2 separate regions of the Homo sapiens genome follow, and region 1 is linked to region 2. Evidence: fine-mapped expression QTL. Tissue or cell type: whole blood. Region 2 holds a variant in brackets; the other region holds the start of a gene. All regions are shown on one strand. Distances are between the middles of the regions.

The links. PIP is the estimated chance that this variant, and not a neighbour inherited with it, causes the effect.
Region 1: LINC00639 starts here. The variant in region 2 is fine-mapped to the expression of LINC00639 in whole blood (TOPMed, PIP above 0.99).

The regions. Positions count from the first base shown.
Region 1 is chr14:38,915,676-38,918,444 of GRCh38, reverse strand. It overlaps LINC00639 (long intergenic non-protein coding RNA 639), which reads left to right and starts at 1,563. Exons shown (of 5, transcript NR_039982.1): 1 at 1,563-1,663. The region is part of intron 4 of LOC105370457 (a long non-coding RNA gene); the gene reads right to left.
Region 2 is chr14:38,827,309-38,830,077 of GRCh38, reverse strand. All of the region lies in intron 4 of LINC00639 (long intergenic non-protein coding RNA 639), which reads left to right. Among named protein-coding and RNA genes, the nearest start is that of LINC00639, 88 kb to the left of the region's middle. The variant C/T (reference allele first, on the strand shown) is at 1,167.

The DNA of each region.
Region 1 (2,769 bases), 88 kb before region 2:
CTGTGGGCCTTTTAATGCATAATTTGTGAACTAATCAATTTTCTCATTTTAATACAACCTCCCTCCCTCCCTCTTTTCCTTCCTTCCTTTCTTCCTTCCTTCCTTCCTCCTTTTCCTCTGTTCCTTTCTTTTCTTTTCTTTTTTTTTGTTATACTTTAAGTTCTAGGGTACATGTGCACAATGTGCAGGTTTGTTACATATGTATACATGTGCCATGTTGGTGTGCTGCACTGGTTAACTTGTCATTTACATTATACTACAGGGCTACAGTAACCAAAACAGCATAGTACTGGCATAAAAACAGACACATAGACTAATGAAACACAATAGAGAACCCAGAAACAAACTCATACATCTACAGTAAACTTGTTTTCAACAAAGGTACCGAGAATATATGTTGGAGAAAAGGCAGTCTCTTCAATAAGTGGGGCTTGGAAAACTGGATATCCATAGGCAGAAGAATGAAACTAGACCCCTATCTCTTGCCATATACAAAAGTCAAATTAAAATTGATTAAAGACTTAAATCTAAGACCACAAGCCATGAAATTACTAAAAGAAAATAGCCTACCTCAGCTTCCCACATGCTAGGATTATAAGCATGAGCCACTGTGCCCAGTGATACAACATTTATGACTGCAAAGTAACTCATCTCCCCTTTGCAGTTAACAGCACTTTGTGGGGAGATAATTTGAGACCATGTTGGTTGTCATCAAACCTTCACTCAGATTCAGCATCATTTGATGCTTTCTTCTTCAATCAACTACTACTATAATAGTTGCCAAATAATGACCTTCCAATTCTACCTTTCCTTCTGCATACAGTAATTAGCATTCTTATGTAAGGAATAATTATTTGTTTGTTTATGTAATTTGAACTCATGAATTCCTAGTTTATTTAATGGGCTATAATCTGCTATTATCATTTGTTTATTTTTTAAAAGTTTTATTTTAAGTCCAGGGGTATAAATGCAGGTTTGTTACATAGGTAAACTTGTGTCATGGGAGTTTGTTGTACAGATTTTGTCACCCAGATCTTAAGCCTAATACCCATTAGTTATTTAATTATTAGTTATTTTTCCTGATTGTCTTCCTTCTCCCACCCTCCAGCCTCTGAAAGGCCCCAGTGTGTGTTGTTCCTCTCTGTGTGTCCATGTGTTCTCATCATTTAGCTCCCACTTATAAATGAGAACAGGCAGTATTTGGTTTTCTGTTCCTGTATTAGTTTGCTAAGGATAGTGGCCTCCAGTTCCATCTGTGTTCTTGCAAAGGACATATCTCTTTCTTTTTTATTACTGCATAGTATTCCATGGTGTATATTGATCACATTTTCTTCATCCAGTCTACTGTTGGTGGACATATAGGTTGATTCCATGTGATATGGTTTGTCTCTGTGCCTCCACCCAAATCTCATCTTATAGCTCCTATAATTCCCATGTATTGTGGGAGGGACCCAGTGGGAGATAATCAAATCATGGGGGTGGGTATTTCCCATACTGTTCTCATGATAGTGATGGGTCTTACGAGATTTGACAGTTTTAAAAACAGGAATTTTCCTGAACAGGGTCATTTTTTTTTTTTTGCCTGCTGCCATCCATGTAAGATGTGATTTGCTGCTCCTTGCCTTCTGCCATAATTGTGAAGCCTCCCCAGCTATGTGGAACTGTAAGTCCAATAAACCTCTTTCTTTTGTAAATTGCCCAGTCTTGTGTATGTCTTTATCAGCAGCAAGAAAATGGACTAATAGAGTAAATTGGTAGCAGTAGAGTGGTGTGCTGCTGAAAAGATACCTGAAAATGTGGAAGTGACTTTGGAACTCGGTAACAGGCAGAGGCTGGAATGGTTTGGAGGGCTCAGAAAAAGACAGGAAAATGTGGGAAGGTTTGGAACTTCTTAGAGACTTGTTGAATGGCTTTGACCAAAAGCCTGATAGCAATATGGACAATAAGGTCTTGGCCGAGGCTGTTTCAGATAGAGATGAGGAACTTGTTGGGAACTGGAACAAAGGTGACTCTTGTTATGTTTTGGCAAAGAGACTGGTGGTATTTTGCCCCTGCCCAAGAAATCTGTGGAACTTTGAACTTGAGAGAGATGATTTAGGGTATCTGACTGAAGAAATTTCTAAGCAGCAAAGCATTCAAGAGGTGACTTGTGTGCTGTTAAAGGCATTCAGTTTTATAAGGGAAGCAGAGCATAAAAATTCGGGAAATTTGCAACCTGATAATTTGATAGAAAAAGAAAACCGGTTTCCTGAGGAGAAATTGAAGCTGGCTGTAGAAATTTGCATAAGTAATGAGGAGCCAAATGTTAATCCCCAAGACAATGGGAAAAATGTCTCCAAGGCATATCAGAGGTCTTCATGGCGGCCCCTCCCATTACAGGCCCAGAGGCCTAGGAGAAAATGCTCTCGTGGGCCAGCCCCATGGTCCCTGTGCTGTGTGCAGTCTAGGGACTTGGTGCCCTGTGTCCCAGCCACTCCAGCCCTGACTAAAAGGGGCCATGGTACAGCTTGGGCTGTTGCTTCAAAGGGTGGAAGCACCAAGCCTTGGTAGCTTCCATGTGGTCTTGAGCCTGTGGGTGCCCAGAAGTCAAGAACTGAGGTTTGAGACCCCCTGCCTAGACTTCAGAAGATGTATGGAAATGGTACCAGCTCTTCTTTTTCTTTCTTCTTCTTCTTCTTCTTTTTTTTTTTTTTTGAGACAGTGTCTCACTTTGTCAACCAGTCTGGTCACAAACTCCTGCCTGGCCCCCCCAAGTAGTTGAGACTATAG
Region 2 (2,769 bases):
TTCCTTGTATAGTGGCTTCCCAGTTCCACGCACTTAGGTTTCATTTCCTCTGCTTTGCTAGTTAACACTGGCCCATCTACTTTCTGTCTTCCAAAATTATAATATCTCTTATCTGTTGTTATCCCCTTTACTATTCTGTTATTATTCTGGTGATATTTTAGGATGGAATAGAATAAAGCAGGTATATTTAAACTACCATGTTTGATGAGTAGCCTCACTAGGAAGTTGCAAAGACATTGTTACATTGAAAGCCTCAAGGATTCCACACTTGAGAATAGATGGTTCAACTGTTTTTGATGCCAGTAGAGTAGGGATCTTACCACCCTTTGTTCATTTCATCCCACACAGTACAGATGTACCAATAATTCTTCCTACCTGCCAGATATGCTGATAATTTTCCTTACCCACCAGATGTCCACAGTCCCACCTCCCTTTCTTGGAGTACATTAGCACAAGCTGATGAGGTTTAAGGAAAATAGTCCACACAGGGCAATCAGTGGTTGAGGTGCTGGATGATAACGAAGTGAAGTTCTGAGCATGTAGGTCAATAAGAACAATTGGTGTCATTGCTGGGCACACAAAATGGGACATTCTTGCTGAGAGTAAGGGCTGGGCATTCTGCCTGAGCAACTCACTTTCTAGTCAGCTTCTGGGCTTAATGGTCCTTTGTCAGTTACTCTTTCAACTCCTATCAGGCTGTGGCCCTTTACCTTCCTTGAACAACTTCCTAAGGACTACTTCCAGACTTTGTAGGTTGCCTTGTACTCACTGCCCCATTTCTATTGCTCCTTGTCCATTTCTTCTGTTTATCTAGGGGAACTCTTTGTTTCTCTAAGGGGTACATCCTTATTTCTACTGTCTTCTCAAATTCAATCATCTTGTTCTTTAGCATTTGATTTATTGGCTCATTAAACTTGGAACCCAAATTACTAGCAACCTCAAAACAAGTTTTCTTTCTAGGTTACTGGTCTAATGTTTAACTTATTTTAGGTAACTGACCTAATGTTTAAATATATAAATTCTATTGCACCAAAAAAGGGAAGAAAAACCACCAGTCAGACCTCCATCTTGAAACAGTCCAATGTTTATATGTTGTCATGGACCTTTGATGACTTAAAATTGTGTCTCCGTCCAAGTCATTTGGAACTCTTGAAATAGTCAGCTAG[C/T]CAAAAGTTATTTTTAAGTGCTAATTTTGTGCCAGCTTTTGGAAAAACAAAAGTAAATAGGAAGGAAAAGATTTCTTGCTCAAGAAGAACAAGAGTTCTAGTTTGAGAGTTAGGCAATGAGCATCTAAACCAAAAATGTATGTAAGAGTACGAGAGAGTTAGGTTTCAAAGATGGTAGTCTCTAGAGCAAGATTATGGGCTAGAGATCTTAGGAAGTGCAGAAACGTCAAAAAGAGGAAGAATAGCAGCATATTCAGAAGGTGAACCCTGTAACTTGGGAAATCCAGCTGAAACCACAGATGCTGATTTCCTATTTGAACTGAACCTGTCTTTTTTCTTTTGAGACAGGCTCTTATCTCTGTCACCCAGGCTGGAGTGCAGTGGCACAATCATGGCTCACTGCAGCCTTGATCTTCTGGGCTCAGATGATCCTCTCACCTCAGCCTCTCAAGTAGCTGGGATGACAGGCATGTGCCACCACCCCTAGCTAAGTGTTTTGTAGAGATGGGGTTTCACCATGTTGCCCAAGCTGATCTTTAACTCCTGGGCTCAAGTGGTTCACCCACTTCAGCCTCCCAAAGTGCTGGGATTACAGACACGAACTCTCATGCTCGCCTTGTTGTTTCTTAAAAAAATCACATTGCTGAGCATAAGAGGAAAAATTGAATCTTTTTCCTATAATAAATCAATCGCTGGTAAAACTTAAAATGAAGAGCTAAAAGTTCTTCCAGATAACACATAAATGTCTTTGCAGGAAAGTATCTCACTATCAAATCAATCTATGCAGTTAGGCCAGGTAATTCTCCTTTCTAAGCTGATTTTGTGGCTGAACTTTTATTGTATATTGAAGGTGATAAGTAAGATAAAGGAAAGACAGTTTGGATGAGGATAGCATTCAGCATTGTGTTCAGTTTATGCAGTTAGATTTTTTTTTCTATTTTGAAATCTTATTTATTCTTTCAAAATGCTTTTTAGGAAAACATTTGAAATAGATGTTTTTATTATCCAAGGCGCTTGTGATGTGGCAGGTTTTCTAACTGTGGTCAGATTCAGATGGTGAATAGTTCTTCATAATAACACTGATGTTTGGTGTGCCAGTTTCTTTTTATGTAGTTATAATGGATATCGTTTTTGTTCATTTTCCCCTTGTTTCCCTCATCCTATGGTATTTTTTACCATTCACCTCCCAGTATAGTATGAAAAAAATTATCTCCTGAATCACCTGTGTCTCTCAACAGGTCAGTTACGATTTGGTCAACTTGGAAACTATCCATAGAGCTAACCTGAATGCTTTGGGCCAGTAACTCCACTTAGTTCTCAACTGCAATGAGGGATTTCTATTTGATTGAAGTGTGGAGGAAAGGCTCCGAGCCAGGGGGAACACAATTGCTGACAGACTGGCATGATAAAGGCCCTAATGAATGCACTTTATAGAGCACAAAGGTAGTGTCTTTTTTGAGTCAAAATTTGGAGTCTGACTCAGTTCATATCCAGTCTCTGTCACTTGCCAGTTGTGTGACTTTGAGCAAGTCCTTGCTGAACCTCGATTTCTTCATCTGTAAAACAGACACCTTAATGTATCTGCTTTACAATGATGCTATAC